Linked DNA regions of Homo sapiens: region 1 is linked to region 2. The links come from fine-mapping of genetic effects on gene expression. A gene starts in region 2. The other region holds a variant in brackets. All regions are shown on one strand. Distances are from middle to middle.

The links. PIP is the estimated chance that this variant, and not a neighbour inherited with it, causes the effect.
Region 1: its variant is the best candidate, but not a certain one, in a credible set for the expression of DNAJC22 in pancreatic islets (PISA, PIP 0.68).

What each region holds. Positions count from the first base shown.
Region 1 is chr12:49,403,907-49,408,290 of GRCh38, forward strand. All of the region lies in intron 2 of SPATS2 (spermatogenesis associated serine rich 2), which reads left to right. Among named protein-coding and RNA genes, the nearest start is that of SPATS2, 39 kb to the left of the region's middle. The variant G/A (reference allele first, on the strand shown) is at 1,911.
Region 2 is chr12:49,344,136-49,348,519 of GRCh38, forward strand. DNAJC22 (DnaJ heat shock protein family (Hsp40) member C22) reads left to right here and starts at 2,753. Exons shown (of 4, transcript NM_001304944.2): 1 at 2,753-3,416; 2 at 3,509-3,970. RefSeq lists silencers at 1,078-1,267, 1,298-1,397, 1,418-1,537, 3,570-3,789 and an enhancer at 3,452-4,384.

The DNA.
Region 1 (4,384 bases), 60 kb after region 2:
TAAAGTACTATTTGGAAGTAGGGAACCTGCCTAAGGATTTGTGTCCTGACAGGTTCCAGAAACAGCTGTTGCTGGATGTGAGACTTGACTTTTGCTAGATTCATTCGTTCCAGTGGATATTTACTAGCACCTGCTGTGTGCCAGGCACTGGGCTAGATGCTAGAGATATCATGTTGAGCAAGAGACAAGTTCCTGCTTGCATGGATTTACAATCTTGCAGGGAAGACAATTAAACCAGAAATTACAATTTAACGTGGTGAATGCTATGATAGAAATTGTCAGGGTCCTTTGGAAGCCTCTAGTGAAAGGATCAGATTAGTCTTAGGTGGGGTAGGGAGGGAAAGAGTACAGGTTCTAGAGTTACAGACTTTTTTTTTTTTTCATTTTTTTTTTTTTTAGAGATAAGATCTTGCTCTGTTGCCTAGACTGGGGTGTGGTTGTGTGATCTTAGCTCACTGCAGCCTTGAACTCCTGGGCCGAAGCGATCCTTCCGCCTCAGTCTCCCAAGTAGCTGGGACCACAGGTGCATGCCACTATGCCCAGCTAATTTTTTGTAAAGACTGGGTCTTGCTATGTTGCCAAAGCTGATCTCCAGCTCCTGGCCTCAGGTGATCCTCCTTCCTTGGCCTCCCAAAGTGCTGGGATTATAGGCGTGAGCCACTGTGCCCTGCTTAGAGTAGTCATATTTAAATAGAGACTTGAAAGATGAGCAGAAATTAGCCAAAGAGAATAGGGGAGAATAGTTATGTGTCGAGCAGCCACAGGTATGCTGTCTTTGCCCCTCCAACTGCCAAACCTTGTTTTACCCAGGGGAACAGAGAACAGAGTCATCTGTTCTGATCACTGTCTTCATCCCCAACATTCCTATGTACCAGGGGTTGGTAAACTACTGTTCACGGACAGGTCAGATCTGGCCTGCTGCCTGCTGTTGTATGGCCTGCAAGCTAAGAATGGTTCTTATACTTTTAAGTGGTTGAAAGAATAAAAAGGAGAATATTTTGTGACACATGAAAATTATATTAAATTCAAATATCAGTGTCCCTGAAAAAAACTTGTGTTGGAACACAACCATGCTCATTTTTTTTTTTTTGTATTGTCTATGGCTGCTTTCACACTGCAGCAGCAGATTTGAGTGGTTGCAATACAGACTGTATGGCTTGCAAAGCCTAAAATATTTGGTATCTTGCTCTTTACAGAAAAAGTGTGGCACCTGGTTTAACCCATTATTATTATTTCATTGTACCATGTGTGTATGAGGATTATAATTAGCTACCATTCATTTTCTATGTGCAGTCTACCCTGCTAGATGCTTTACATATTTATATATAATCTTTTTAATAATTTCCAGAGATGTTGGTAACATGCCTAAAATTACACACTTAAATTTTGACACAGTGTCAAAATTTAAACCCAGATGTCTGAATTCAACATCTGTATTCATTTTACTGATCACATTGTGTTATAATTAATTGTTCATATGTCCATCTCTCAAAAAGAGACTTGAGCTTGGGCTGGGCACCGTGGCTCACGCCTGAATTTGCAGCACTTTGGGAGGCTCAGTTGGGTGGATCACCTGAGGTCAGGAGTTTAAAACACAGCCTGGCCAATGTGGCAAAACCCCGTCTTTACTAAAAATACAAAAATTAGCTGGGCGTGGTGACCCATGCCTGTAATCCCAGCTACTTGGGAGGCTGAGGCAGGAGAATCACTTGAACCCGGGAGGTAGAGGTTGCAGTTAGCCGAGGTTGCAGTGAGCCGAGATCACACCACTTAACTCCAGCCTGGGCGACAGAGCGAGACTGTCTCAAAAAAAGGAGGGACTTGAGCTTGAATGATAACTTACTTTTTCGTAAATGTCTACCATTTTTAGTACAGGGCGAGTCCAAATAAATGTTTATTAGACGACTTTC[G/A]TGTATATAATTTCATCTGCCTTCTAACAAACCTGTGAGGATAACACATATATAAATTTTTCAGATAATTGACATTTACTCTTTTGCATACAGTTTCTTCCATTTTAAATAACAATACTTTAAAACATGACATTTGAAAATTACATTAAATGTAACTAAAGATATTTGGAAAAATTTTGTTCTGTCAGAACAATGCCTTTGGTTTGGGAGGCCGAGGCGGGTGGATCACTTGAGGTCAGGAGTTCAAGACCAGCCTGGCCAACATGGTGAAACCCTGTCTATACTAAAAATACAAAAATTAGCTAGTCATGGTGGTGCATGCTGGTAATCCCAGCTACTTGGGAGGCTGAGGCAGGAGGATAGCTTGAATTCGGGAGGATACTGACATATATGTACAGTTGTTTGTATAATACCTATAGTAAATAATAAATAATCTTGGAATGCTAGATCTTTCTAGTTTTTGTAAACTTTTTTTTTTTTTTTAAAGACAGGGTCTCTTGCTCTGTTACCTAGGCTGGAGTGCAGCAGTGCAATCACAGCTTACTGTAGCCTTGACCTCCCAAGCTCAAGTGATCCTCCCACTTCAGCCTCCCCAGTAGCTGGGACTGCAGATGTGCACCACCATACCTGACTAATTTTTTTTTTACTTTTTGTAGAGATGGAGTCTCACTATGGTGCCTACTCTGATTTTGAACTCCTGGCTTCAAGCAATCCTCCCACCTTGGCCTTCCAAAGTGCTGGGATTACAGGTGTGAGCCACCACACCCAGCCTAGTTTTTGTCAGCTTTTTATGCTTTCTTTTCTGTTTACTCCTTTGTCAGCGGTCAGTGATAGCTGCTTTTTTCCCCCTATTTTAAATTTGCTACTTCTATCTTTTGGTGGATTCAGGAACTAGAACTATAACCCTATTAAAATTGTGTATAAAATAAGAGTTCCAAGATCAAGGCAGATTTGGTTAAAAAAAAAAAGTAAGAATTCGTCTTGATACTATCACCTGTGAATGAAGTGAAAGTGAGGCGTTCTTATTCTTAAGGATTTTATAACACAGTTGGAGAGAGCAAACATATACTGGGAACAATCATAATGTAAAATAATATTAACACCAAACTTGTGTATCCCACTGGCCACTTAACATCTCTATGTGCATGTGTAATAGTGGATATAATAGGCATCTCACACTTCATATGTGTCTCCACGCCTCTTTCATGGTCATCCCCATTTCAGTAAATAGACTATCCTTCCATTTACTTGGGACAAAAACCTTGGAATCATCCTTGATGCCTCTCTCTACATATCACATTTCATCTTGTTTTACTTTGAGAATACATACTGAATCTGACCACCCTCTCTACTGCTACCACTCAGATTCAAACTGCTGTCCTCTCTTTCCTGGATTGTTGCATTAGTCTTCTGATTGAGTTCTCTCTTTCTGTCCTTGTCTTTGTGTAGTCTTTTCTCAGCAGACCTCCAGAATGATCCTCTTAAAATTAAGTCAAATGAGGTTGTCACTCCTTTGCTCAAGATCTTCCAGTGGTTTTCCATTTTAGAGTAAAAGCTAAAGTTGTGACAGTGGACTAAAAGGTTGTACAAAGTCTGGCTTCAGTTTACTCCTCTGGCCTGATTTCCTATGACTCTCCACTGCTCACGTTCCTTTAGCCACAGCGGCATCCTTGCTGTTTTTCTAAGATGCCAGGTTGTTTCTTCTTCAGAACATTTGTGCTTGCTGTTACCTCTCCTAGAATGCTTTTCCTATGCAGGTAGCATGGCTTTTCCTCTTCCTTATTTCAGGGGTCAGGCTGAAATGTCACCATATTGGTGAGGCCCTGGCTCTCTATCGCCTTTACCCTGCTTCATTTTCTCTGTAGCACTTATCTGGATCTGATAGGCTCTGTGTGTATTTTATTTATTCAAATTTTAATTTAAAAAATGTTTTATTGCTATCTCCCCATAGGCTAAGACAGGGGTTGCCAAGCCAAAAATGACCTACTGCCTCTTTTTGTAAATAAAGTTTAATTAGGACACAGCCATGCTCATTCATTAACATATTGTCAGTGCAGCTTTTGCACCGCCAACAGCAGAGCTGAGTATTGTGACAGACCGTATGTCCAGCAAAGCCTAAAATGTTTGTTGTGTGGCCCTTGACAGAGTTTGTGGACTCCTTGGCTAGCACAGTGTTTGACACAAAGCAGACGACTGATTGAATGAAAACAATGTCAGTGTTAAATGGTAGGTTACAGACTGTAAAATGCTATATGAGTTAATATCTAAAAAGTTATTAGTTATTAGACTTTAAAATCAAGGATAATTTGGGAATATGTCAGCCATAATACTTTGTTCAAGCTGAGGTTCTTGAATGTATTAGCCATTACTACCTGATAGCAGAGATACGCCCGCTTTTCGAAGGCCACACCTAATTTGGAGATGATAGTATTCTTCTTTTTTTTTTTTTTTTTGAGACAGACTCTCACTCTTGT
Region 2 (4,384 bases):
TCTCCATAATAACTCTCTTCAGTTTGGCTTGGTCTCCACTCTCAATCCTCATTCTCAAAAACACCAAGAAGTTGAACCTGGCCTCCTCCCAGCCCTGAACCTCCTGGGTTTACAGAGCAGAGAGCTGGGCTGACTCTGGATCTCTGGCCCCCTGTTTTGTTCAGCAAGACCCCTTCCCTTTGTCTTGTTGTTCCTTGGGGCTAGGGTATCTCCTGGAGCTTCTGTATATTTATCTCTGTAAACGTCCTCTTCTTTTTTTTTTTCGGGGTCTCACTCTGTCTCCCAGGCTGGAGTGCAGTGGCTCGATCTTGGCTCACTGCAATCTCCGTCTCCTGGATTCAAGAGATTCTTCTGCCTCAGCCTCCTGAACACCTGGGACTACAGGCTCCACCCGGCTTTTTTTTTTTTTTTTTTTTAATTTTTAGTAGAGACAGGGTTTACCATGTTGACCAGGCTGGTCTTGAACTCCTGATGTCAGGTGATCCACCCACCTCAGCATCCCAAAGTACTGGGATTACAGGTGTGAGTCACGGCGCCCAGGCTTTGTACCCTCCTTTGTGTCTGCATATTTCCACATTTAGGAATCTTCCAAATTTGTCTTCCTACATTTTGGGGGGCTCTCTCTTTGTTCCTCTTGGGGCTCTTCTCTCTAAGAATACACCAGCCCAGCAGAATACCCCACGGACACTGGAGTAGGAGAAGGAGGAGGGCTTTCTTCCTGCCCCCATCCAGAGGTGATTGCTAACCCAAGGATGGTCACACCGTGTCAGGGCTCGGGCACGCGCGGGTCACTTCACATTCTGAGCACAGACGCCTGGTCGATGCCCTGCTGTCCCTCCCTCCTCCCAACCTCCCTCCGCCTGGCCCCCGCCCCCTCCGCCCGCCTGGAAAAGGCAAATTTGACATTTTTAAATCCCGAGCCTTAGAGGGATCGATGCGGCCCGGGGGCCCCGCCCGGGGTCGATATTCCTGATTGGGAAGCGGCCGCTTCGCGGAGCCCGCGTGTAAATCACCTGGGCTGGGGGAGGGGGCGTGGGGAGCCTACCACGTCCCAGGCTCGCGAAGCCAGGAGGGGTCGGGACCCGGGCGGTACCGGAGGGCGACGGAATGAGAACGACAGGCCTTAGAGAACCAGAGAGAAGCCCGCCCAGGGCCTCCCCCTCCCCCGCTCAGCCCTGCCAACTCCCCCAGCAGGCTCCAGTCTCGCTTCAGCGGCCGCCACCCTTCGTTGCCCCTGGAGCCGCCGGGGAGGCCAGTGTCGGAGCCAGCCATGCGGCGGCTCCTCTCTGGCCGCTCCCGCGGGGCCGGGGCTTCGGCGGCTGCTGTCACGGAGCCGACAGGCCGGGCCGGCCGGGAAGGGGCGGGTGGCGGGGGGGAGAGGCGGCGGGGTGAGGCTGGCTCAGCGCTGGCACTCAGTGGGCGCGCAACGTATGTTTGCCGAATTGAAAGGCTGGGACACCGAGCGGCGCAGGGCAGAGGGTCGGAGGGCACAGGCGGGGTAGGAGATGGCCCAGACCGGGTGAGGGCAGAAGCCTCACTCACGGGGGAAGAAGGCACTCGAGGTCGCTCTGAGGACCGCTGGGCTGGGATAGACCACCCATCCCCCGCCGGGGAGACCCGGGTAGTAAAGAACAAGACAGAATGGGACAGGCAGGACGGTTTGGACCCCACCTACAAGCGCCTCCACCACCCCAGCCTCCGATCCTTGTCACGCTCTGCTGGGGAAACCGAGGCAGCCGATGCTGAGAATAGCCAAAAAGTTAAAAGCGGGGTCAGCGACGAAGCTGGGGCAGCAACCAGAATTCCTGCGTGGGTTTTTTGGATTCCTCCGCCCACGCGGGGCCAGTTTGCGGGTAAATGCACCACCGCGCCCCGCACCACAGCTCAGACCCTTTCCTCTCGCTGCAGTTTGTCAGATCCCCCCACCTCCCACTCTGCACCAGTTTATAGAACAACAATTTGGGGAAAACAATCCGGGCGGAGTGACGGCCCCGTAATTGTGACAAAGTGAGTGCGGGCGGCTGGAGAGAGCGCTAGGCCGGGAGCGCTGCAGGGCGAGGCGGAGGCAGGGGCGCCTCCCCCCGCCCTGCCGCCCCCTCGTTCTTATTCCGGTCACCTCCCATCCCTCTCCTTGACTCTTCAATTCCTCTTCTCCCGGCCCCTTGCGCCTTCCTTCGCTTGTTCCTCCATCGCTCTTCCCTTTCCTCCCGGTAACAGCTCTTCTCCCGCTCCCCCGACCCCGTCGCCCCTCCCCCGGTGCGCTTTTTCCTCGCTCACTTCTCCCCTCTCCTCTGCCCTCCACTCGTTTCTTCAGCTTTTCCTCGCGCTTACATTGCCCTTGGGCCCCTGGCTCTCCCCGCACAATCCGCTTCTCTCCCTCCCCACTCCTCCCTTCCTGAGATCGAACCCTGAGCCCCTTCCCGACCCCCACTCTCTGGGCCGCCAGCGCAGCCCCGCATTTCTGGGTTCCTCGGGAAGTAAACCTGGGGGCGCGCTGCGGCCCCGGGTGCCCCGGCGGCCAGCCCCTTCCCTCTCCCTTGTATGGCTGCCGCCCCCGCCCCACCACCTGAGCCGGGAGATAGTTTGTTTGTCCAGCGGCGGCCGCCGCCGCCCACGCTGTTTGCAAAGCTTAGCGCGCCGTCGCGCAGTGCGGGCCCAATTAAGTCTCATTCATTATTCAGCGCTCCTGTCCGCCCCCGCCCCCCAGCAGTCTGAGGCGTCGCTTTGGGGCCCCTCCCAGCCTAGGCCCCTCAGTGAGCCCTAAGAGGTCATATAGAGAGCAGCATTTCCTCTCCAGGCCGAGATGAGGGCTGAGGGCGTTTGGAGGGAAGCGCTCTGCCTACTGCCGGGAGGTGACACCCGCGAGGCCGACCGTCCCCCGAAGCCCCCGCAAGTCCAGACTGGGGGACCTCGGAGATCCACGAGATTGCCAGAGAAGGAAATTGAGGCCCAAGAAGCTGCATGACTTAGCCAAGTTCACGGAGTAGAACCCGGGATTGGAGCCCGGGACATTGAAATGAAGGCGTCTTGCATTGCAGCTCCGTTGCAGCGCAGAGGCGCAGGAAGGCAGACTACCACGAGCCTCGGGCTGCGGCCTCGCCCTCCTGGTCGAGCCTCCTGCCCTCCAACCCTCTGCTCCCGTTTCTCCCTCTGGTTCATAGCCCGCGGGACAGAGCAGCCCTGGATTGGGAGGCTCCTCAGGTCTCAGGCTCAGGTGCAGAAGCAGAGCCCCTAACTGGAAGGCTCGGAGGTGGGCCGGTGAGGCAAGCAAGCCCTGTGGGGGGTTGAGGACAGCTTGGGTTGGATGTCCCTCACTGCAGCCTGTCCGTGGATGTCTCTGCCTTAAGGGAATTGGAGGTGGAACCATCCAGTCTTGAAGGTCAACGGAGCGTGAAGAGAGGAGCGTGCAGCTTGAGGTGAGGGAGGAGTCACCTTTCAATTTGTGGGGGTGGGAGGAGGTAATCAAGGACGTATTCTTGCATTTACAGGAGTTTATCCTTTTTTTTAGCACTACAGATAGGAGCGTCCCTTGCTCCTGCCAGGCAGCCCCTCCATAGGGGCAGTCCTGTGCTGCTGTGCCTCGGTACCCGCACAAGGTGTCTGGGGACCGCCCGGACCCCCCCTTCCATCGGCGGCAGCGCCACCTGGCGGCCATGGTGCGGTGGTGTGGGAGGAGCTGGGCCCGGGCTGGGCACTGAGCCCACCGGAGCTGCAGGCGTCTGCAGAGCCTTGCACCGAGTTTCCCCGCGAGGGCGGGCGGGAGGAGTCCCAGGCGGGAATGTGATCCCCAGGGGGCCGGGGAGGGCCCTGGGGAGGAGCCTGGCCTGGGGAAGCCGGACTTCCGTGACACAACAGACACAAAAGACAAAGTCCATTTGGATGGAAGTGGGAGCAGGGCGAGACGGGCCATTTTCACTCTGTGGTCAAAGGAAATGACTGGTCTGACTCGGTCTGGGAGCGGGGCACCCAGGTATGGCCACTTGATTTGGAAGTAGCGGGTGCTGGCTGGTGGTCGCTCCAGATAGAGGGGACACTGGCAGGCACGCTTGGCGTCCAGTTTGATATTGTGAGGATTTGTCCAGCTGCTGTGGAGTGGCTTTCCAAGCCGGCCTCCGAAAGAGGTGGTTGAATTGTGGGGTGCCAAGGTCTAGGTCAAACGAAGTTTTCCAGAATATTTTAATAAAGGGAATTCAGGACCCCTTTCAAGTTTGACCTGTGGGAAAATCTCATGGCCTGGAGAGTTAGGAAGGCAGGAGAGTGGCTAAAGCCTGGGCCAGGTGTGGGAGGGCAGCCACAGTTGGAGTTAAGTCAGGGGTAAGGCAGAGGCTTTCAAAATGTGTGGGAACTTTGGAAAAGCATCCAATGCAGCCCTGCCCCTCCACAC